Homo sapiens: one gene and its partners. The protein of the gene in region 1 purifies or fractionates together with the protein of each later gene. This does not show direct contact. Each region holds a gene or a part of one and is shown in the gene's direction. Other genes may lie near its edges. The genes, in order: AKAP12, DYNLRB1, KIF3C, ARFGEF1, ARMC6, KIF3B and ACBD3.

What was found.
Region 2: the proteins of AKAP12 (region 1) and DYNLRB1 fractionate together in Homo sapiens (co-fractionation; one large-scale study listed by BioGRID). This does not show direct contact.
Region 3: the proteins of AKAP12 (region 1) and KIF3C purify together in Homo sapiens (affinity purification with mass spectrometry, with the first as the bait; one large-scale study listed by BioGRID). This does not show direct contact.
Region 4: the proteins of AKAP12 (region 1) and ARFGEF1 fractionate together in Homo sapiens (co-fractionation; one large-scale study listed by BioGRID). This does not show direct contact.
Region 5: the proteins of AKAP12 (region 1) and ARMC6 purify together in Homo sapiens (co-immunoprecipitation; one large-scale study listed by IntAct). This does not show direct contact.
Region 6: the proteins of AKAP12 (region 1) and KIF3B purify together in Homo sapiens (affinity purification with mass spectrometry, with the first as the bait; one large-scale study listed by BioGRID). This does not show direct contact.
Region 7: the proteins of AKAP12 (region 1) and ACBD3 fractionate together in Homo sapiens (co-fractionation; one large-scale study listed by BioGRID). This does not show direct contact.

What each region holds. Positions count from the first base shown.
Region 1 is NC_000006.12:151,351,467-151,354,966, forward strand, and holds part of AKAP12 (A-kinase anchor protein 12), read left to right. Parts: coding exon 1-2,274; 3' UTR 2,275-2,286; intron 2,287-3,500. UniProt on the Homo sapiens protein: Anchoring protein that mediates the subcellular compartmentation of protein kinase A (PKA) and protein kinase C (PKC).
Region 2 is NC_000020.11:34,515,106-34,519,221, forward strand, and holds the start of DYNLRB1 (dynein light chain roadblock-type 1), read left to right. Parts: upstream 1-1,316; 5' UTR 1,317-1,353; coding exon 1,354-1,356; intron 1,357-4,116. UniProt on the Homo sapiens protein: Acts as one of several non-catalytic accessory components of the cytoplasmic dynein 1 complex that are thought to be involved in linking dynein to cargos and to adapter proteins that regulate dynein function.
Region 3 is NC_000002.12:25,972,498-25,975,997, reverse strand, and holds part of KIF3C (kinesin-like protein KIF3C), read left to right. Parts: intron 1-3,500.
Region 4 is NC_000008.11:67,221,782-67,225,281, reverse strand, and holds part of ARFGEF1 (brefeldin A-inhibited guanine nucleotide-exchange protein 1), read left to right. Parts: intron 1-248; coding exon 249-379; exon of another isoform or gene 380-593; intron 594-3,500. UniProt on the Homo sapiens protein: Promotes guanine-nucleotide exchange on ARF1 and ARF3. Promotes the activation of ARF1/ARF3 through replacement of GDP with GTP. Involved in vesicular trafficking.
Region 5 is NC_000019.10:19,054,103-19,057,602, forward strand, and holds part of ARMC6 (armadillo repeat-containing protein 6), read left to right. Parts: intron 1-49; coding exon 50-219; intron 220-592; coding exon of another isoform or gene 593-688; exon of another isoform or gene 689-1,162; coding exon 1,163-1,294; intron 1,295-1,688; coding exon 1,689-1,826; intron 1,827-3,290; coding exon of another isoform or gene 3,291-3,313; coding exon 3,314-3,500.
Region 6 is NC_000020.11:32,315,651-32,319,150, forward strand, and holds part of KIF3B (kinesin-like protein KIF3B), read left to right. Parts: intron 1-567; coding exon 568-669; intron 670-876; coding exon 877-999; intron 1,000-1,105; coding exon 1,106-1,224; intron 1,225-3,500. UniProt on the Homo sapiens protein: Microtubule-based molecular motor that transport intracellular cargos, such as vesicles, organelles and protein complexes. Uses ATP hydrolysis to generate force to bind and move along the microtubule. Plays a role in cilia formation.
Region 7 is NC_000001.11:226,144,179-226,146,460, reverse strand, and holds the end of ACBD3 (Golgi resident protein GCP60), read left to right. Parts: 3' UTR 1-1,782; downstream 1,783-2,282. UniProt on the Homo sapiens protein: Involved in the maintenance of Golgi structure by interacting with giantin, affecting protein transport between the endoplasmic reticulum and Golgi. Involved in hormone-induced steroid biosynthesis in testicular Leydig cells.

The sequences.
Region 1 (3,500 bases):
GAAGGTGGCGTACCTGACATAGAAGAGCAAGAGAGGCGGACTCAAGAGGTCCTCCAGGCAGTGGCAGAAAAAGTGAAAGAGGAATCCCAGCTGCCTGGCACCGGTGGGCCAGAAGATGTGCTTCAGCCTGTGCAGAGAGCAGAGGCAGAAAGACCAGAAGAGCAGGCTGAAGCGTCGGGTCTGAAGAAAGAGACGGATGTAGTGTTGAAAGTAGATGCTCAGGAGGCAAAAACTGAGCCTTTTACACAAGGGAAGGTGGTGGGGCAGACCACCCCAGAAAGCTTTGAAAAAGCTCCTCAAGTCACAGAGAGCATAGAGTCCAGTGAGCTTGTAACCACTTGTCAAGCCGAAACCTTAGCTGGGGTAAAATCACAGGAGATGGTGATGGAACAGGCTATCCCCCCTGACTCGGTGGAAACCCCTACAGACAGTGAGACTGATGGAAGCACCCCCGTAGCCGACTTTGACGCACCAGGCACAACCCAGAAAGACGAGATTGTGGAAATCCATGAGGAGAATGAGGTCGCATCTGGTACCCAGTCAGGGGGCACAGAAGCAGAGGCAGTTCCTGCACAGAAAGAGAGGCCTCCAGCACCTTCCAGTTTTGTGTTCCAGGAAGAAACTAAAGAACAATCAAAGATGGAAGACACTCTAGAGCATACAGATAAAGAGGTGTCAGTGGAAACTGTATCCATTCTGTCAAAGACTGAGGGGACTCAAGAGGCTGACCAGTATGCTGATGAGAAAACCAAAGACGTACCATTTTTCGAAGGACTTGAGGGGTCTATAGACACAGGCATAACAGTCAGTCGGGAAAAGGTCACTGAAGTTGCCCTTAAAGGTGAAGGGACAGAAGAAGCTGAATGTAAAAAGGATGATGCTCTTGAACTGCAGAGTCACGCTAAGTCTCCTCCATCCCCCGTGGAGAGAGAGATGGTAGTTCAAGTCGAAAGGGAGAAAACAGAAGCAGAGCCAACCCATGTGAATGAAGAGAAGCTTGAGCACGAAACAGCTGTTACCGTATCTGAAGAGGTCAGTAAGCAGCTCCTCCAGACAGTGAATGTGCCCATCATAGATGGGGCAAAGGAAGTCAGCAGTTTGGAAGGAAGCCCTCCTCCCTGCCTAGGTCAAGAGGAGGCAGTATGCACCAAAATTCAAGTTCAGAGCTCTGAGGCATCATTCACTCTAACAGCGGCTGCAGAGGAGGAAAAGGTCTTAGGAGAAACTGCCAACATTTTAGAAACAGGTGAAACGTTGGAGCCTGCAGGTGCACATTTAGTTCTGGAAGAGAAATCCTCTGAAAAAAATGAAGACTTTGCCGCTCATCCAGGGGAAGATGCTGTGCCCACAGGGCCCGACTGTCAGGCAAAATCGACACCAGTGATAGTATCTGCTACTACCAAGAAAGGCTTAAGTTCCGACCTGGAAGGAGAGAAAACCACATCACTGAAGTGGAAGTCAGATGAAGTCGATGAGCAGGTTGCTTGCCAGGAGGTCAAAGTGAGTGTAGCAATTGAGGATTTAGAGCCTGAAAATGGGATTTTGGAACTTGAGACCAAAAGCAGTAAACTTGTCCAAAACATCATCCAGACAGCCGTTGACCAGTTTGTACGTACAGAAGAAACAGCCACCGAAATGTTGACGTCTGAGTTACAGACACAAGCTCACGTGATAAAAGCTGACAGCCAGGACGCTGGACAGGAAACGGAGAAAGAAGGAGAGGAACCTCAGGCCTCTGCACAGGATGAAACACCAATTACTTCAGCCAAAGAGGAGTCAGAGTCAACCGCAGTGGGACAAGCACATTCTGATATTTCCAAAGACATGAGTGAAGCCTCAGAAAAGACCATGACTGTTGAGGTAGAAGGTTCCACTGTAAATGATCAGCAGCTGGAAGAGGTCGTCCTCCCATCTGAGGAAGAGGGAGGTGGAGCTGGAACAAAGTCTGTGCCAGAAGATGATGGTCATGCCTTGTTAGCAGAAAGAATAGAGAAGTCACTAGTTGAACCGAAAGAAGATGAAAAAGGTGATGATGTTGATGACCCTGAAAACCAGAACTCAGCCCTGGCTGATACTGATGCCTCAGGAGGCTTAACCAAAGAGTCCCCAGATACAAATGGACCAAAACAAAAAGAGAAGGAGGATGCCCAGGAAGTAGAATTGCAGGAAGGAAAAGTGCACAGTGAATCAGATAAAGCGATCACACCCCAAGCACAGGAGGAGTTACAGAAACAAGAGAGAGAATCTGCAAAGTCAGAACTTACAGAATCTTAAAACATCATGCAGGTAAGCTTCCTTGTCTTCTAAGATAATTTTTCTCTTTTATGCCAATAGATGGCAAATTTGTTACATAAGGAATCGGGAGCAAATAATTAATGCCTTCGTGTAGAACCTTCAGTTGAGGAAAATAACTATCAACTAGATTCAAAGATCTAGGATAGTTTCATGGTTTTTGGTGATTGAAATGCCATTTAGTCTTATCGATGTTATGAAAAGAACGACTTCGTTTTACCTCCTAATGTGACTGCTTTAGAATAAAATAAAACGGCATGTGTGTGTGCACATGTGCGTGTTTGACCCAAAGGCATAAGAAATACATTGTGTTCACTCAACTATCTTGTTGAGTTTTTTTAAAAATAACTAGTGCTCCAATGGCTGGGCGTGGTGCCTCACGACTCCGTCTCAAAAAAAAAAAACAAACAAAAAAAACTAGTGCCCCCAAATGGGCTAATATTAAACTGCCTGAAATATAGCTGATGATAGCTCTTTCAGAAAAAATGGATTTTTTTTCCCCTAGCAGTAGTAACAAGTATTTTTAAAAATTTTCCAGCGCATATAATGACCGACCCTCACTGTGTTAGTTACTTGCAGTTGCTAGTAACTCCCCATCTTTGTGGTTTTTGTTTTGTTTTGTTTTGTTTTCTTGAGACGGAGTCTCGCTCTGTCATCCAGGCTGGAATGCAGTGGCGCGATCTCGGCTCACTGCAAGCTCCGCCTCCCAGGTTCACGCCATTCTCCTGCCTCAGCCTCCCGAGTAGCTGGGACTACAGGTGCCCGCCACCATACCCAGCTAATTTTTTGTATTTTTAGTAGAGATGGGTTTTCACCGTGTTAGCCAGGAGGTCTCGATCTCCTGACCTCGTGATCCGCCCGCCTTGGCCTCCCAAAGTGCTGGGATTACAGGTGTGAGCCACCACGCCCAGCCCTATCTTTGTTTTGTTTTTTGAGAGAGCCTTGCTGTGTCACCCAGGCTGGAATGCCGTGGTGCAATCATGGATTGCTGCAACCTTGACTTCCTGGGCTAAAGCAAATCGCCTGCCTCTGCCTCTGTCTCCTGAATAGCTGCTGGGACCACAGGCACATGTCATTACTCCGAGCTAATTGTTAAATTTTTTTGCAGACAGGGGTCTTGCTATGTTGCCCAGGCTGGTCTCAAACTCCTGGCCTCAAGAAATCCTCCTGCCTCACCCTCCCAAAGTGCTAGGATTACAGTCGTGAGC
Region 2 (4,116 bases), on another chromosome or scaffold:
TACTAACTTTGATCTGGTTACGGTGGTGTCTGCTAGGTTTCTTCGCAGTAAAGTCAATCCTCTTAACATGCAGACACTCCTGGAAGGAGAACCAAATCCTTCCTCACTGAAGAGCAGCTACTGTGGAATGAAACTTTGGAGTTAGATCATCGTTGAATCCAGCAAGCTACAGTGCCTGGGAGAAACAGCATTTATAAAGTATCGAGGTTACCGATACTTCCCTGAAGCTACCGGAGATAACGTTATGTGCGTGTTCAGCACAGTAATGTGGCACAGGGTTCACTAAACGGCAGCATGTTTTAACAGAAGTTATTTACTCCTAGAGGACCCAGAAACGTTTGCGGCCTGCCGGAACAGGACAACATAGGGCTCTGGGAAGAGTCCCCCTTTCAGAGGTGAGAACAAGACAGAACACACAGATGTGAAGTGCCTTCTGCTAGGTAACGCGAGGCGGGGCTGAGCTCGGATTCTAAAGACTCCCAGGCCAGCCCTAACCAATTCATCTCCGAGCTTGCACGGCATCTTACCCGGAGACTCGAGGTACCTGACTCCAGCCCCACCCCAGGCCTGCCCGATCCCGAAGCGCATTTTGGCCCTGGGCCTCTCTCTGGCTCAGTCTGGGCGCAAAGCGGGTCTCAGCAACCGTCCCACTTGCCTTCATACCCTCCCACCACGCTCCACTCAGGGACTCCAGAACCAGCTTAGACCTCCATTGAGAGCTGAAAGCCTCTTCCGATACCGAGAACCAGCACTGAAAGCCTCTTCCGATACCGAGAACCAGCATGGTTTTTGTTTTGTTTTGTTTTAGTCAGGGTCTCTTGCTCTGTCGCCCAGGCTGGGGTGCAGTGGCGCAATCTCGGCTCACTGCAGCCTCGAACTCCTGGTCAGGCGATCCTCCTACCTCAGCCTCTGGAGTAACTGGAACTACACGAGCGCGCCACCACGCCCGGCTAATTTTGTTTATTTTTTAGTAGAGAAGGGGTCTCTCCATGTTGCCCAGGCTGGTCTCGAACTCTTGGGCTCAAGCAATCCTTCCGACTCGGCCTCCCAAAGTGCTGGAATTACAGGCGTAAGCCACCGCGTCCAGCCAGAACCAGCATCTTTTCTGCACGGCTGGAGTTGGGAATTTTCCACAGCTTAGCGCACTGCTCCTTAGCTTTTCGCTTTGCCACAGTGGAAAGCAGATTTTCCAAGAATCCTGGCGGAGCCAAGATCGGCTCGCCCGCCCCCGCCTCACGCTGGCTCCTGATAGGCAGCTAGAGCTGTCCGTTTTGACAGAAACCTTTGCGCAGGCGCAGAAAGGCACAGGACTCGCTAAGTGTTCGCTACGCGGGGCTACCGGATCGGTCGGAAATGGTGAGCGTGCGCCGGGGTCTTGTGGCTGGCGGCCGCCCACCACCCCACGCCAGGCCTTCAGTCTTCCGAGGATGAGGGGATCTCAGAGCTCCGGACAGGGAATCGGTGGTGGCTGGGCGTGGCCGGGCCCGGGCCCCAGCCGACTTGAGGGTGGAACCCGGCGGCGGAGGCCTCTAAAGCCTGACCGAGGCGGGGCCGCCGGATCCCGCTGCCCCTTGACCGGAAGCGGGAGCCCAGCCTCGGCCAGGAAGAGATGATGGGCGAGGGGTGGGCGGCGGCCCTGCAGCCTAGAGTTTTGGGGCCTTGGTGCGCGATGGCAACCCTGGCAACGTTTCCCGGGAGCTCAGTTTGTGGCAGGCTCTGCCAAGCACTTTATGTATCTTGTATTTCCTCCGCCTCCTCCCAGCTCTGTGAGGTAGATACAATCTTTAGTCCCATTTTGTTATACATATCTGTTATTCAGCGCCCCGAGAAGCCAAGTGCTTTGCCCCAGGAAATAGTGGAGATGGATTTGAACCCTAGAAGCTTGACGGCCGCCACTCTGTCGGCGTGGTTCTTTCTAGCCGCTGGGACTGGGTGCCAGAGTCAGGAACGGGCGGGGTCTGCTCTTGGGGATCCCAAAGCTTGCTTTCTACCTTGCTTGCTGCAGCTGTGGGTTCTCAACGCCGTTACAGGTTTTGTGTTTGTAATCCTCACAGCTTGGGCAAAATTTGAAAAAGTTTCAAATTTTAAGCCATGTGAATATATTACTTTTTCAAAAATCTTATTTAGAAATCTAGAGCTTGTAATAAAAAAATTGAAAAAAGAAACCGTGTCATCACCTAGAGGCAACCACTTACAGTAGTCATATGACTTCTAGTCTTTTTTGCTTGTTTTTGGTTTATACAGTTTAGCCCCTATTGAATGTGCAATTGTGGGTTCTGTGTTTTTCATTATTACACCACAATATCTCCACATCATTACAAACATGTAATAATGCTTCAAATATGTATAACTTCATTTTTCACATCACTTCTTAAGCTGTAAAAAAAATTGATATATAATAGTTGTACACATTTATGTTGTAGATATACATGTAATATTTTGATACATGCATATGATGTGTAATGATCAAATCAGGCTATATTTATTATAGAATATCCATCACCTTAAACATTCATTATTTCTTTTTTTTTTTTTTTTTTTGAGATGGAGTGTGTCTCTGTCGCTCAGGCTGGAGTGCAGTGGCACCATCTTAGTTCACTGCCACCTCCGCCTCCCAGGTTCAAGTGATTCTCCCGCCTCAGCCTCCCGAGTAGCTGGGACTACAGGCGCCCACCACCACGCCCAGCTAATTTTTTGTATTTTTAGTAGAGACGGGGTTTCACCGTGTTAGTCCGCCTCAACACGGTGGTCTCGATCTCCTGACCTCGTGATCTGCTCGCCTCAGCCTCCCAAAGTGCTGGGATTACAGGCGTGAGCCACCACGCCTGGCCCACATTTTCTTTATCCATTTACCTATTGATGGACGCTAATTCCATAATTTAGCTATTATGAATAGTGCTGCAATATGAACATGAGGATGTAGGGATGCCTTTGATGTACTAATTTCCGTTCCTTTGAATAAATACCCAGTAGTGGTATTGCTGATTTATGGTAGGTTTTTTTTTTCGTTTTTGTTGTTGTTTTTGTTTTGTTTTGTTTTTTCGATGCCTTTGTCGAAAATCAGTTGGCCGTAAATAAGTGGATTTATTTCTGGGTCCTCTATTCTATTCCATTGGTCTGTGTTTTATACCAATACCATGCTCTTTTGGTTACTATACCTTTCTGGTATATTTTGAAATCAGGTAGTGTGATACCTCAAGCTTTGTTCTTTTCGTCCAGGCTTCTTTTGGCTTTTCTGAGTCTTTTGTGGTTCCATACGAATTTTAGGATTGTTTACAGGTAATACTTGCACACAGTAAAAAAATAAATGATGTAAAAGGATCTAAGTGAAAAATAAAATTCCCACTCTCCTAACCCCCAGTCTCAGTCTCTCCTCCTTTAGAAACAACCATTGTTAGTTTCTTTTTTTTTTTTTCTTGCAAACTTGACCCTCCTGGGCTCAAGTGATCCTCCTGCCTTAATTCCCCAAGTATCTGGGACTACTGGTGCACGCCACCACACCCTGCTAATTTTTTTGTATTTTTTTTTTGTAGAGTTGGGGTTTTGCCATGTTGCCCAGGCTGGTCTTGAACTCCTGGGCTCAAGTGATTCACCCACGTTGGCCTCCCAAAGTGTTAGGATTACAGGCGTGAGCCACCACACCCAGCTGTTAGTTTCTTATGCATCTATACAAGCACTTATATGGCCCCCCTTTTTCTTACTTAAACTGTAGCTTTCTAGAACCTGTATTATGCTACTCCGTGGTTATACTCATAAAAGCAATGCAAATTTAGATGCCTAGTTTAACTTTTTTTTTTTTTCTTTTGAAACAGAGTCTTGCCCTTTCGCCCAGGCTGGAGTGCAGTGGTGTGATCTGAGCTCACTGCAACCTCTGCCTCCCGGGTTCGAGTGATTCTCCTGCCTCAGCCTCCGGAGTAGCTGGGACTGCAGGAGCATGCCACCATGCCTGGCTAATTTTTCTATTTTTGGTAGAGACAGGGTTTTTTTTCTATTTTTAGTAGAGACAGGGTTTCACCATGTTGACCAGGCTGGTCTCAAACTCATGACCTCAGGTGATCCGCCCACCTCCGCCTCCAAAAATGCTGGGATTATGGGCGTAAACCACCATGTATGTTA
Region 3 (3,500 bases), on another chromosome or scaffold:
CCTCCAAGAAAGGTGCTGTTATTGTTCTTGTTTTTTTTTTGAGGCGGAGTCTCACTCTGTCGCCCAGGCTGGAGTGCAGTGGCGTGATCTCGGCTCACTGCAAGCTCCACCTTCTGAGTTCACGCCATTCTACTGCCTCAGCCTCCCGAGTAGCTGGGACTACAGGCGCCCACCACCACGCCCGGCTTACTTTTTGTATTTTTAGTAGAGATGGGGTTTCACCACGTTAGCCAAGATGGTCTGGATCTCCTGACCTCATGATCCACCCGCCTCAGCCTCCCAAAGTGCTGGGATTACAGGCCTGAGCCACTGCACCTGGCCTTATTGTTCTTGTTTTATAGATGAGAAAACAGAGCTCCATTGAGGTGAAATAACTCTCCCAAGGCCACATGGTTGGTATAGTAAAACTATGTAAACCCAGCTGGATTTGACACAAAATCTGATGCTCTTTTAGGCTTAAAAAATTAGGAATATCAGGTTGGGAACTGGTTCCTGAGGAGGTGCTGAAAAATTATAGGAGTAGGCTGGGCAAATTATAGGAGTAGGAGTGGCTCACACCTGTAATCCCAGCAATTTGGGAAGCCAAGGTGGGTGGATTCCTTGAGCCCAGGAGTTCCAGACCAGCCTGGACAACATGGAGAAACCCTGTCTTGACAAAAAATACAAAAAATTAGCCAGGCATGGTGGTGTGTACCTGTAGTCCCAGCTACGCAGGAGACTGAGGTGGGAGGATCGCTTGAGCCCAGGAGGTTGAGGCTGCAGTGAGCCTTGATTGCACCATTGCACTCCAGCCTGTGTGACAGAGAGGAACCCTGTCTTAAAAAGGAAAGAAAAGAAAACTGATAGGAGCTGCTGTAGATGTGTCACATTTGAGGTGACAGAGTCCAGTGGGCAGCTGGAGTTGGGCCAGTGGAGTTTAGAAAGAAGCCCGAGACTGGAAATGGAGATTGGGTCTCATTTTTTTTTTTTTTGAGATGGAGTTTCACTTTTGTTGCCCAGGCTGGAGTGGAATGGTGTGATCTTGGCTCACCGCAACCTCTGCCTCCCAGGTTCAAGCGATTCTCCTTCCTCAGCCTCCCGAGTAGCTGGGATTACAGGCATGCACCACCACACCCAGCTAATTTTATATTTTTAGTACAGATGGGGTTTCTCCATGTTGGTCAGGCTGGTCTCAAACTCCTGACCTCAGGTGATCCACCTGCCTCAGCCTCTCAAAGTGCTGGGATTATAGGCATGAGTCACCATGCCCAGCCCTGCCCCTCTATTTTTGACACTCTATCCCTCTGTGTAAATGACTCCCAGATCGAGGTCTCCTCTCTGGTCTCTCTGCTGGCCTTATTATATGAAGTGCTATGTTCAGGGCATGGGCATCAGAGTCAGCCAGGTCTGGATTTAGTGACTTACCAGTTCTGAGGCCTCTGAGTACCAGTTTCCTTAGCTATAAAATGGGATAGTAATAGTATCTTTGTTACAGTGCTATTGAAATAATTAAACAAGGGCCAGGCGCAGTGGCTCATGCCTGTAATCCCAGCACTTTGGGAGACAGAAGCAGGAGGATCACTTGAGCCCAGGAATTCAAGACCAGTCTGGGCAATATAGCAAGACCTTGTCTCTAGGAAAAAAAGAAAAAGGCCGGGCGCGGTGGCTCATGCCTGTAATCCCAGCACTTTGGGAGGCCGAGGTGGGTGGATCACGAGGTCAGGAGACTGAGACCAGCCTGGACAACATGGTGAAACCCCGTCTCTACTAAAAATACAAAAATTAGGTGGGCTTGGTGGCGCGCGTCTGTAGTCCCAGCTGCTCAGGAGGCTGACGCAGGAGAATCACTTGAACCCGGGAGGCAGAGGTTGCAGTGAGCCGAGATCACACCACTGCACTCCAGCCTGGTGACAGAGTGAGACTCCGTCTCAAAAAAGAAAAAAAGAGAATTAAACAAGAGAACGAACATAAAGCACTTTGCACAGTTTCTGGCACACAAGTGTTAAGTAAATAATTATTATTGCTATGTCAAACCACCTAATAGATGTTTTCACTTGGCCACCTTCCTGATATATTAAACACATCACATTTTAGTTTGGCATTCAAGGCGCTTCAGAGTCTGACTGCAATGCATCTCTTCTATCTTGCCTGCCCAAGCCGGTTACTCCAATAGGAAAACCCTGCACCAGCTGTTCTACCCCTTCCTTTGAAATCAACATGGGCCTCCCTATCCTACTGCTGATTGCACTGTTTTTGTGTCCTGGATTGTTGCTGGTAACCAGGGAGTACGAATTATGGAAGCAGGTTAAGCTTAATTTAAAGATCTCTTTAACAGTTAAAATTGGGCTGTTTCAAGAAGAAATAGGTGGCCTTGATGGTGGTGATGATTTCACGGTTGTATACCTGTCCCCAAATTCATTGAGTTGTATACATTAAATATGTACAGCTTTTTTTTTTTTTTTTTTGAGACAGAGTCTCACTCTGTTGCCCAGGCTGGAGTACAGTGGGACGATCTTAGCTCACTGCAACCTCCGCTTCCCGGGTTCAAGCAATTCTCCTGCCTCAGCCTCTTAAGTAGCTGGGATTACAGGTGCACGCCACCACACCTGGCTAAGTTTTGTATTTTTAGTAGAGATGGGGTTTCACCATGTTGTCCGGGCTGGTCTTGAGCTCCTGACCTCAGGTGATGCACCCACCTCAGCCTCCCAAAGTGCTGGGATTACAGGCATGAGCCACCGTGCCTGACCTAAATATGTACAGCTTTTTACACATCAATCATGCCCCAGTAAAGTCATGGGCTCCCATCCCTGGAAGTGTTCAAGGAGAGACCGAATGTCAGTGGTGCACTAAGGGCTTGATATATCAGGAAAGCCGTTGAACCAGATGATCTTCAGAATCCCTTTCTCTTAAAGGCCCTTAATTGTTTAAAATGTTATTTTTTAAACAGTAAAAGAGAAAATATTTAGCTTTCTGAAAATTAAGACCAGAAGATTTAAATTTTAATGTAGTATGAATTCAAACAATAATATAATAGAGGATGTTTTTCAGCTCTCTGTCATAACCAGTTAGAGAAGAGTCAAAGACAATGGGAAGAAGAGAAGAGAGAAAGAGAGAGATAATAGGAGAAAAGCAAGAGAGAAATAGAGGGGGACAATAAAGAGGGGAAAGAGAAAGAGGTGGGGAGGTAGAGTGGGTAAAGCTGTGGACGACAGGGTTTTTGGGAAGAAGAAACCTCGATTGGGAGAGGAAGTGCTGTAGTGGAGAGAGTGAAATACTGTGTATCATTCCACTGTCCTGATCTTAATGTTAGTCTTCAAATAGGGCTATCTCCAGTCTCCAGAGACTTCCACAAAGCTGATCTGGTTCCATCCACATGTCCCCAAGGACACCAGCCCCATGCTAGACACTCTGAGATTTGTGGGGCTGTGTGATCAGCTGAGTCCTGTATGATCAGACCCTTGAAAGAAGCCTTGAGATAACAAGTGACCCATACTCCAGGCTGGGTTTGGATCCAGGTCACA
Region 4 (3,500 bases), on another chromosome or scaffold:
CAGTTGAAAGTGAAGCTAACTTTTGGATTCTAGTCCAGAGCTCTTTATAGGCAGTTATGTTTTGCCTATTTCAGTGGCACATATACTAAAATTGTAGGCAGTTATAGTGTCCATTTTTTATAAATTATTTTTTATTAAATTGCTCACTGGTTATTTGTGAAGCATTTAAATTATTTTTTGAGAAGTTAGTATACTGAATGTATGGGTGTTATGTTTTGCCTTTAATAACCCTACCTTTTTTCTTGAAGGCTTTCAAGGAATACACAAGCGATGATATGAACGTAGCACCTGAAGACAGGGTGTGGGTGAGAGGATGGTTCCCAATTCTCTTTGAGTTATCCTGTATCATCAATAGATGCAAATTAGATGTAAGAACCAGGTAACAATCTATATTTGTAATTAAAATTTTGGATTTATTTTGACTTTAATCAAATTAACTCTTCTTTATAAACACAATCTCACAGTTAAAGACCATAAAATCAAGTGTTTTGTCAAATATATTAATTATTAGGTATATTTTAAAATATGTTAATATGATTTAAAAATATTAACTAGAGCAAAATAAAAATGGAAATACTACATTATTTTTAAAATATTTGATTATAGCCTCCATTTGATTTTAGCTTCTAAGTTAATTTAATCCTTTAAACATTCCGTCTTTTCATATATTTGTTTCCAATAATAAGTTGAAGTTAGTGGCAAAATTTATTTTATTTCCTGATGAATGATAGAAGAATTTTTAACTGCACATCCTTGCTGGGTTTTAGGTGAAGAACCATTTCTTTTTGTAACCTGGTCAGTAACATAGTTTGGAATAATATAGAGCTATTCAAATAGAACTCTTTCAAAAGTATATTGCCAATAAAAGATCATTATGAACATATAGTCAATCTGTAAAGGAACTATTATGGGTATTATGTAACTGGCCAAATGCTAACACACTGTTCTTAGGTCACGGCTCACATGATTCCCATAGTAGTTTTTTTACCCTGTACTTTGCCACATTGAAATGGCCAGCTTGTGTGTCCTAATATCTGTCAACCTCTAAACCCACCGTGAGTTCAATTTTATGGTAAACAAAATCTTTTAGGAATCTTTCCATCTTATTTGGAAGAATCTTCTGTTATTTGGATGTGTAACTTTATCGAATTTTTTGAATTTCTAAAGGTAGCACAGAATGAATCTCTCTTTTCTCACCTTATGCCAGAACCACCCCCATCCCCCACCAAGGTTAAATTTGACTTATATCCCAAGAAATTTTTCATTTTTATAGTATTATTTGTTACAACAGAAATTCGTATGAAATAGATAATCAAAATAGGACTTAACCCTTAGGGATTTTAATTATGAGAGCACTATAGAAAAACATTTTATTTTATATTTAGACATGGTGGATTGTTTATCAGTGGACCTGTTAGGAACTTGTTAAAATTCAAGATAGCCCCATTTCAGCTGTCCACCTGCCTCAGTGGAGCGGCTGACATATCATGACTAGCAGGTCATGAAAACTCAGCACCCTCTCCCCTCACCCTTTATTTATTTGTAGAAGTCTGTTTGATGGAGGATCCACCTGCTTTCTTAGCCTTCTGTTGCTTGGCACTGTGATACCTTATTTCTCACCATATTCCATGTTCAGATTATGGGTAGATTCCAGTTGTTAAAGAGGTTGTGTGTGTTCTAGTTAGTAAAGGAGAGAGAAAAGATCAGTAAACTTTGTTCAGTGATGGCCTTTGATTTTCCTACCTCATCCCAGGATATGTATGGGTTGCTATTTAGCTTCCATCTTAAAATGTGGGCCGGATGCCATGGCTCACATCTGTAATCCCAGCACTTTGGGATGTCAAGGTGGGAGGATTGTTTGAAACCAACCTAGGCAACATAGTGAGACCCCATCTCTTTGAACAAAAAGTTAACTAGGCATGGTGGTCATGCCTCTAGTTCCTGCTGCTCATGAGGCTGAGGCGGGATTGCCTAAGCACAGGAGGTTGGGGCTATGGTGAGCCCTGATCACACCACTGTACTCCAGCCTAGGCAACAAATTGAGACTCTCTGTCTTTAACAACAACAAATAGTGCAGCACTATAATTGGTATAACACTGTGTAGAAAGAATTTCTTGTGTGCATTCTTACTTAATTCTTCCAAAATTCTCTAGATTTGGGGATAAATACCGAAAATTAAAGTCCCAAATATAGTCAGGCATCATTTAATGACAGGAGTATGTTCTCTGCAATGCATTAGTAGGCAATTTCAGCATTGTGTGAACATCATAGCATGTACTTACACAAATCTAGATGGCATAGCCTATTGCTCCTTGGGTACAACCTGCACAGCATGTTACTGTACTGTAGGCAGCTGTTAATACGGTGGTGTTTGTGTATCTAAACATATCTAAACAGGCTGGGTGCAGTGGCTCACGCCTGTAATCTCAGCATTTTGGGAGGCCAAGGTGGGCAGATCACCTGATGTCAGGAGTTTGAGACCAGCCTGGCCAACCTGGTGAAACCCCATCTCTACTAAAAATACAAAAATTTGGCCAGGCATGGTGGCCATACCTATAATCCCAGCACTTTGGGAGGCCCAGGTGGGCGGATCATCTGAGGTCAGGAGTTCAAGACCATCCTGGACAACGTGGTGAAACCCCTTCTCTACTAAAAATACAAAAATTAGCGAGGCGTGGTGGTGCGCACCTGTAATCGCAGCTACTTAGGAGGCTGAGGCAGGAGAATCGCTTGAACCTGGGAGGTAGAGGTTGCAGTGAGCTGAGAGTGCCACTCTACTCCAGCCCAGGCAACAGAGTGAGACTCTGTCTCAAAATAAAAATAAAAATTAAAAAATACAAATACAAAAATTAGCCGGGTGTGGTGGTGCACACCTGTAATCCCAGCTACTTGGGAAGGTGAGGCATGAGAATTGTTTGAACCCAGGAGGCGGAGGTTGCAGTGAGCCAAGATGGCACCACTGCACTCCAGCCAGGGTGACAGTATAAGACTCTGTCTCAAAAAAAAAAAAAATACATACATACATACATACATACATACATACATACATACATATACATATATATATATGTGTGTGTATATATATATATATATATATATGTGTATATATATATATATGCATGGAAAAGGTACAGTAAAAACATGGCATAAAAGATAAAACCTGTAGGCTGGGCATGCATGGTGGCTCACGCCTGTAATCCCAGCACTTTGGGAGGCCAAGGTGGGCGGATCACGAGGAAAGGAGATCGAGACCATCCTGGCTAACACAGTGAAACCCCGTCTCTACTAAAAATACCAAAAATTAGCCGGGCGTGGTGGTGGGCACCTGTAGTCCCAGCTACTTGGGAGGCTGAGGCAGGAAAATGGCTTGAACCTGGGAGGTGGAGCTTGCAGTGAGCAGAGATCATGCCACTGCACTCCAGCCTGGGCGACAGAGCAAGACTCCATCTCAAAAAAAAAAGAAAGAAAAAAAAAAGCAACAACAAAAACCCATATAGGGC
Region 5 (3,500 bases), on another chromosome or scaffold:
TGCGGCTGGTTCTTCCCGCCCCCACCACCGTCTCCCTTTCTCCCTGCAGCGTTCCTGGATAACCCTGGCATCCTGAGCGAGCTCTGTGGAACCCTGTCCCGCCTGGCCATTCGCAACGAGTTCTGCCAGGAGGTCGTCGACCTCGGGGGCCTGAGCATTCTGGTGTCCCTGCTAGCCGACTGCAATGACCACCAGATGAGGGACCAGAGCGGCGTTCAGGTATGAAGTCCCCCTGGCCCATTGCGTGCTGTCCTTCTGGGTCCCAGTCAACCGGACGAGCTATAGTCAGAACAAGCCAGCCCTGCCTGCCAGTGTCGGAACCAAAGTGCAGTTTTTCTTTTCACGGACCCAAGGGCAGGAACCAAAGGTCGGGGGGGAAACAAACCCACCTGCTCTCCCTTATTGTCCTTTTGCACCAGGAAAAGGATGGTAGGAAGCATAGGGTTGGGGTGTGTCGGCCAAGGCTGGGATACTTGGGTTAGTTCCCGCACCTCTGCCTCAGTTTCCCTAGCTACAGAATAGAGCAGTGTCCCTACTCATTACTCCGTTTAGCAGCCGATTATTGAGCCCTTCTCCATGTGCCCATCCACAGCAGGGAGCCAATCAACAGGTGCCTCCCTATCCAGCTGCAGCTGCAGGAAAGCCCCCAGGGGTGCCACGGTCCTGCGCCCCCAAGCCCAGCTGTTGACGTCAGCCAGCCTCTTTCTGTGCAAGTGGCCAGGAGCTGAATGGGAACCAACTTCAGCAAATGAAGGGATACATTTTGCCCTGTACTCCTGGGCAGTTGGGGGCAGGGTCCTCAGGTTCTCCATCGGGGGATCAGCAGTCCCAGTAGCACCTCATCCACTGTCCTCAGTGCAGGGCAGTTAGCGCCTACCCTGGGTCTGTGGCCGTGGACAGGGGGACCCTGTGCTCTGAAGGCCGGCCTGAGTCACATGCCCCCGCTGCCCCTGTCGGGGTAGGGGATCAAGTCACCTGGATGGTACCGTTTGGACACAGGCAGCCTGAGCCACAGGCATCTGCCACCCCTTCTCGTTAGTCACACCCTGCAGTCACACCATACCTGTTGGTCAAACAGCAAAACAGCCCCACATTCTCCCTCAGAGCCCTCTCCCACAACCAGCGGCCTGGCTGGAGGTGAGCGGGCCTTTCCCTTGTGCAGGAGCTCGTGAAGCAAGTGCTGAGCACCCTGCGAGCCATCGCAGGCAACGACGACGTGAAAGATGCTATTGTCCGTGCTGGTGGGACGGAGTCCATCGTGGCTGCTATGACCCAGCATCTGACCAGCCCCCAGGTACCCACCTCGGGGGGCACACACAGTAGCAGGGTGGTGGCTGGAGTCCCAGTTCAGTTTCTGTATCTGCATGAAGCTCTATTCCCCTGCAGGGCCAGGGCAGGGCTGGTGAGGGTCGTGGGCATTGGCTCTCAAATGCTGACCTGCGTATGCATGACTTTGGGTGTCCTGGAGTTACCACCAGCACCCTGCAAAGATCTGACCAGGCCTATTGCCCTTGTCACCCCTAAGAGCTGAGCTGATATTTTTGTCACCCTGCCATTATTACACAGGAGTTGCCAGAGACCCACGGAGGGGAGGCCGCAGGGTGTTCACCAGGGGTTGGTGGCCATGGCAGGATGTTGTGGGGGGTCTATCTGCTGCATCTCAGCCTTTCTGTGACTGGCCCCTGCAGGTGTGTGAGCAGAGCTGCGCGGCCCTGTGCTTCCTGGCCCTGCGTAAGCCCGACAACAGCCGCATCATCGTGGAGGGTGGCGGGGCTGTGGCAGCACTGCAGGCCATGAAGGCACACCCGCAGAAGGCCGGCGTGCAGGTGGGCAGGGCAGGGGATGGGGGCAGGCAGGCTGGTGTGGGATGTGCAGGTAGGTGCAGAGAGGGCATGGGAGCAGGTGCGGTGTGCGGGTGGGTGATGGGGCAAAGGCTCAGTCCCTATCCCTATCCCTGTCCCTGTCCCTCCCACAGCCGAGCCCCATAGGGCCAACTTCTTTCTCATCTTGCAAAATGTGCTGAATTCTGCCTTCATTTGCCTCCTTCTCTGCCTTTGTTTTTTCTGCATTTACTCTCCTTTTTTGGGGAGGGGGTAGTTTGGAGGGGCTTTCTGGTGAAACCCTGGAAAGAAAGCTATAACACGTAATCTCCTTCTGTGGGTTTTTTTTTTTTTTTTTTGAGACAGTCTCACTCTGTCGCCCAGGCTGGAGTGCAGTGGCGCCATCTCAGCTCACTGCAACCTCTGCCTCCTGGGTTCAAGCGATTCTCCTGTCTCAGTCTCCCGAGTAGCTGGGATCACAGGCATGGGCCACCACGCCCAGCTAATTTTTGTATTTTTAGTAGAGACAAGGTTTTGCCATGTTAGCCAGGCTGGTCTCGAACTCCTGACTTCAGGTGATCCACCCACCTCCACCTCCCAAAGTGCTGGGATTACAGGTGTGAGCCACCGCACCCTTAATCTCCTTTTTTAAAAGTCCCTATAGAGAGATCTGGGGAGAAAGAAGTTGGGGAAGCGTGGATGGGGATCTGCCTGGGGTTTCAGAAAGGTTTCTGCCCCCTCCTTGGGCTGCTGGTCTGAGTTCTGAGTGTGGGACACCCTGTCCACACCTCCCTGGCTGAACCCAGACTCCTCCGTGCAGCCCCCGGGGCCCTCCTCGCCTCCTCACTCCCAGCATAGGATTCTTGGACACACCAGGCTGGGACCCACAGGGGGCCTTTGCTCTCGCTGGCTCTTACTCTGGGACACTGACCCTTACCTGGTCTGACCCCTTGTCCACTTCTGGCCACCCTGGCCAGCAGTTCCCCACTCTGCATGCGCTTCCCACCTGCTGTCCTGCTGGTGGTGGGAGCCACCCTGGGAAGCTTCCAGGCAGTGCCCCGCGCCCACCCACAGCAGGTGCACAGGGCACAAATGTCCACTGAATGGGTAGGGATGTAATTGACAGGTGCCTGTGCACAACCACTGTCTTCCCGTGGCCTCACTGCCCCCTTGCCCTAGGGCCCCTTCCTTGGCTCTGTGCCAGCCTCGGGGGACCTCAGGCTCACCAACTCTGAGGCTGAGAGTTCCAAAGCCATAGGATAGATCCTGGAGCTTCCCTGAGCCTGTTTCCTTGCCTGGGAGTTAGCCATGCCTTGTGGGGCTGCCAAGAGGGTAAAGTAGAGAGATGGGTCTAGCTTGATACAGTATAGGCAGCTGCTGGATGTCAGCTGTGGTTATGATCACCTCCATCTTGTTATGATGAAGACCCTGAGGTCAGAGTGGACCCCACCCCAAAGCCCCATCTGGCAGCTCACAGCTGCTCTCTCCTACAGAAACAGGCTTGCATGCTGATCCGAAACCTGGTGGCCCACGGCCAGGCCTTCTCGAAGCCCATCCTGGACCTGGGGGCTGAGGCACTCATCATGCAGGCCCGATCTGCCCACCGTGACTGTGAGGACGTGGCCAAGGCCGCCCTGCGGGACCTGGGTTGTCATGTCGAGCTCCGAGAGCTGTGGACAG
Region 6 (3,500 bases), on another chromosome or scaffold:
TGCAGTGAGCTGTGATCGTGCCACCGCATTCCAGCTTGGGTGACAGAACTAGACCCTGTCTTTAAAAAATTTTAAAAAATCCCCACAGAGTCTGAATTCTATCCCATCAGTGTGCCTCTCCCATGAATTACTGTGTCCTTTCCTCATGATGGCATCTGGCGCCATATGGTTAAAGCCTGCTTGCTTGTCTGTTTTCCTCAGTGGACTCGGAGCTTTGTGATTCACACTCACATTGCATCCCCAGGACCTAACATAAAGGGTCTGCTTAATATGTTCTAAGTGGGGTTAATACTTTGTAGAAACAAGCAAAAAAAAAAAATTTGTTAAAGCTGAAATTCATGTATCTGAAGAAACTGTATCTTCAGTGTTACCAAGAAGCCTCTAGTGAAGCTGCCCCAGTCCCTCACCAGTGATGGATGGGCACAGCTGAGCACAGTGTATTTTTTCCCAGAGTTTGTCCCTTTTGGCTCAGTCCTGAGCTCTTTATCTTTCACAGGCTCCCCTGTGAGGAATTATGTTCTGAGAGAAACCGTTCATGAGATGGATTCTACTTTGTTTCTCACTCAGGCCATGGAGAGTAAGTTGCTTGTTGGAGGAAAAAATATAGTAGATCATACGAATGAACAGCAGAAAATCCTGGAGCAGAAACGACAGGAAATTGCAGAGCAGGTAACTTTTCATTCTTTTTCAGGGAGAATGGGTGAGGTAAGGTGTGTTTATGCTGCAGAGCAAACGTCTCATATTAGACTCTCTTCAAAGAGAATGAGAGCAAGGTGTGTCTGCCTCATCCTAGCTGGAGACTCTGATCCTAGCTTGGGGAACCCAGCATAGACACAGTCTCTAGGGCAAGCTGATGAATTTTGTCATGTTGCTCAGAAACGTCGAGAAAGAGAAATCCAGCAACAGATGGAAAGTCGAGATGAGGAGACCTTGGAACTTAAAGAGACATACAGCTCATTGCAGCAAGAGGTGGACATCAAGACCAAAAAACTCAAAAAGGTATGAAAGGAATGAGGCCAGATGGAGTTGCCTTGAGACTTGGGGAAAGGGAGAACTCTACCCTTTGGACAGACACCCTCCTCACCTGCCTCTCCCCTCATTCCAGCTCTTCTCCAAGCTTCAGGCAGTGAAGGCTGAGATCCATGACCTCCAAGAAGAACACATCAAGGAGCGCCAAGAGCTAGAGCAGACTCAGAATGAGCTCACCAGGGAGCTGAAACTCAAGTAAGTGCCAGGCCTTCCATAGTGCCCCCAAGCCACTTGCTGAGTCATTGATCTCGTTTGTTTAGTTAGAAACAGCCCTGGCTGGGCTTGGTGGCCTACGCCTGTAATCCCAGTGTTTTGGGAAGCGGAGGCGGGCAGATCACCTGATGTCAGGAGTTCGAGACCAGCCTGACCAACATGGTGAAACCCCGTCTCTACTAAGAAATACAAAAATTAGCTGGGCGTGGTGGTGCATGCCTGTAGTCCTAGCTACTTGGGAGGCTGAGATAGGAGAATCGCTTGAACCCGGGAAGTGGAGATTGCGGTGAGTTGATATCGTGCCACTGCACTCCAGCCTGGGCGACGGAGTGAGAAAAAAACACAAAAAAAGAAATAGCCCTGAGGACAGGTCCTTCTCCAGCTCATCTCCTGCCACCCCATGTTCTGTTCATTCCTGAAAAAGTCACTTTCCATCTCTGGATCCCATCTGTTAACTGAATGACTTCATCAGGTGATCTCCAAGTTCCCTTCTAACCCTACCTTCTCGAAGCTTTTAAAGATTCTGGTCTTACATCTGTCTGATGATAAGAGGGAATATTTTATTAACTTGACTTTTTATTGTGACAATTTTCTGAATGGTATAATAAATACCCAAGTACCCATCACCCAGATTCAAGGATTAACAAGCTTTTGCCATCTATCTTTCACAAAAATATTTTAAAGCAAATCTTAACCTCATGTTATCTCACTCCTACATACTTATATATATATATATATGATCACAGTGGTTTTTTTTTTTTTTGAGACAGAGTTTTGCTCTATCACCCAGGCTGGAGTGCAGTGGCACAATCACAGTTCACAGCAGCCTGTAACTTGTGGGCTCAAACAGTCCTCCCACCTTAGCCTCCCGGGTAGCTGGAACTACAGGTGTGTGCCACTATGCCCAGCTAATTTTTAAAAAAAATTTTATAGAGATAGAGTCTCTCTATGTTACCTAAGCTGATCTCAAACTCCTAGGCTCAAGCAATCCTCCTGTTTCAGCCTCCCAAAGTGCTGGGATTATAGGTGTGAGCCACCACACCCAGCCCACAATACTGTTTTTAAAAAAGCTTAATTGAGACATACTTCACATACCATACAATTCACATATTTAAAGTGTACAAATCAGTCCGGGCATGGTGGCTCATGCCTGTAATCCCAGCATTTGGGAGGCCGAGGCAGGTGGATCACCTGAGGCCAGGAGTTCAAGACCAGCCTGGCCAACATGGTGAAACCCCGTCTCTACTAAAAATCCAAAAATTAGCTGGGTGTGATGGCGTGTACCTGTAATCCCAGTTACTCAGGAGGCTGAGGCAGGAGAATCTCTTGAACCTGGGAGGCGGAGGTTGCAGTGAGCTGAGATCACACCACTTTACTCAAGCCTGGGTGACACAGCGAGATTCTTGTCTCAAAAAAAAAAAAATTAAAAAATGATAAAGTATACAAATCAGTGTTTTTTTAAAAGCATATATATGCATAGGGCTATAAAACCACCACTACAATCTAATTTTAGAACATTTTTATTACTCTCCTCTAAAAGAAACTCTACCAGTTAGTAGTCACTCCTCATTACCCCCTTTCCCAACCCGAAGTAATCACTAATCTGCTTCCTGTCTCTATGGCTTTGCCTATTCTGGCCATCTCATATAAATGGAATCACACACTGTGTGGCCTTTTTGGCCTGGTGTCTTTTGCTTAGCATGACGCTTTCAAGGATCGTCCATGCCGTAGCATGGATCAACAGATATCTGGTAGTCCCAACATCAATTGTTCTTTATTATGACTGAATAATATTGCACTGTATGAATAGGACACATATTTATTTATTTTTCAGTTTATATACATTCCGATTATTTCTAGTCTTTGGCTATTATGGATAATACTTCTATAAGCATTCATGTATAAGGTTTTGTATGGATGTGTGTTTTCATTTCTCTGGGATACATTCATAGGAGTGGAATTGCTGGGTCATATGGTAACTCAGTGTTTAACTTTTTGAGAGAATGCCAAACTGTTTGCCACAGTGGCTGCACTATTTTACATTTCTACCACCAATTTCTCCACATCTTCTTTTTTTTTTTTTTCTTTGAGACAGTCTCGTTCTGCCACCCAGGCTGGTGTGCAGAGGTGCAGTCTCAGCACACTGCAACCTCCACCTCCTGGGCTCAAGCGATCCTCCCACCTCAACCTCTGGAATAGCTGGGACTATAGCGGCATGCCACCCTACTTGGCTAATTTTTGTGTTTTTTGTAGAGATG
Region 7 (2,282 bases), on another chromosome or scaffold:
TTTCCTTGAGACTCTTTAGCATTCATACTTTGGGGTTAAAGGAGATTCCTCAGACTCATCCAGCCCTTGGGTGCTGACCAGCAGAGTCACTAGTGGATGCTGAAGTTACATGAGCTACATGTTAAATATTTAAAGTCTCCAAAATAAAACACCCCAACGTTGACCTTACCCGGCTGATGGTTAGCCCCTTGCTGCCTGCTCCATGTGTCTTATGAGAGCCCGTAGTTACAGTGTCCTCTAATTTGAAATCCATAAGTTAACAAGTCTATATCAGGTGCAGCTGGCTTTGATTAAAGGCCATTTTTAAAACTTAAAAACTCAACACCTCACAGATTATAATAGAAAAAGAAATGGCCTCAGTTTGATCTCGTTCAGAATGACCCAGATTGTTTCTGCTTTGGGTGCAGCTGTTTAGTTCAGAGTTATATTACAGAGAATTATTTTCTGAGATAATCTTAAACTAGAATGTTCAAAACTAATTGATAATTGAAGTATCAAGATACGTAGAACACCTCAGAGATTTTTCTTCAGGAACTTCCACAAACTTTGAATCCTTGTATCTTTATTTGGTATTCATACTACTAGTAGCAAAATACAGGTTTTTTGTTTTGTTTTGTTTTGTTTTGGCTTCATAGAGTATCTCAAATTGAAACTTTTCTGCACAAAGAATAAAATTAAGGATTTTATAAACTCAAATTGGCACCTACTGAATTAAAATACATAAAATCATTTAAATATAATTCAGCATATGGGAAGTAACATTGCACTAATATGGAAATCACTGCCAGAGACAGTCTATTTTCTTTTAATTTGTTACTACTTAGTCACAAACCCCACATTATTCCAGTTTGGAATTACTTATTAAGGAGAATTGGAAATACATATGCCCATGCTTAAATTTTATAGCTTTAATTTGTGTTATTTCTTTATTGACGGGAAGAGGTACATCTTTTTTTCCTTACTGAAAACAAATATGGATTAATTGCCTCAAATTTGTATAAGTGATTGGCTAGTGATTCTTGTTTTCAGAAGGGAGAGTGGTATAGATAGAAAATGACAAAGATGGCAATATACACTTAATGTTGTTATTGTATGTTGTTACTGAAGTACTTAGATTTTTAAAATTTCAAATCCTAAATCACTTCTTGTAGGAGGGTTTTCATTAACTGCAGTATATACAGTTCACTACATATGGGTTGTTTGAGTTTTTTGTGTGCTGTATTTCTTTCTGTTTTTTAATACCTGGTTTTGTACATATCTAACTCTGTTCTCTTTTGGTTGTTCAGAAACTGGATTTTTTTTTTCTTAAGCAGTGCTTAATTTGTGTTTTTTAATTTTGATTCAGAAGTAGTCCCAGCTCATAGGTGTTCATACTGTTACATCCAGAACATTTGTCAGGCTCTCTGTCAGCTTTCATGTACATATGGTATAGAAACCATGGAGTTAGGCACTTCCTGGATTTTTTTTTTATGAGAAAAATACTGTATTTAAAATGTAAAATAAACTTTTAAAAAGCAGGCACTAATATATATTTCTTCCAGCCTTTGATTACAAATTTGTCCTTGCACATGTTAAGATGAATTATCTCCTAAAAATATCATTGTTCTTGGGAGCAGTGTATGTTACTTTACATAGCAGCGGTTCCTGTCATGTGTTCATGTCAGAATATTTTTGGTTTTAAACTTTCTTATTGCCTTTGGCTGTTGATTAGTACAGTACAAGTGCGATTTCAAAAAGATCTTGAAAGTAATATATTTAATCAATTAAAATGTTTATCTGTAACTTGTTGATGTTTCATTAATATAGTTACTCTCTGAAGCATTAGTACAGTATTTCAACATTTGGGTAGGAGAAAAAGAAATGTTTCAAACATCTTTTTTGTTTTAAAAGGCTCTAGTTGAAAAACAACTCTTTCTGGCCAATTATTTAGTTTTACTATTAATTACCTTAGTGAGTTAAAATAGATTTAAATTTTTCCACACTTTTAAATGCAAAGGCTAGCACTGATTTTTCTTATTGAAAATGACTAGGTTATAAAGTTGTTTCTCTACACTACCATGTATGTAGTGTGTTCCATTAAATATGTGGACCCCACACACTTTAATGGATCTCCAGAGGCAGAGCCCTCGCTTGCTCAGGGTGGATGATTGCAGAGCACTTGTGGGGAAGTGCGCGATCAGTGTGATGTGGAGTCCCAGAATGAGGTTGCTACATCCAGATGACCCCACTGATAGGCAGGGTGACTGGCATAATTTTTTTCTTTTGAAATCTGGGGAGACAGA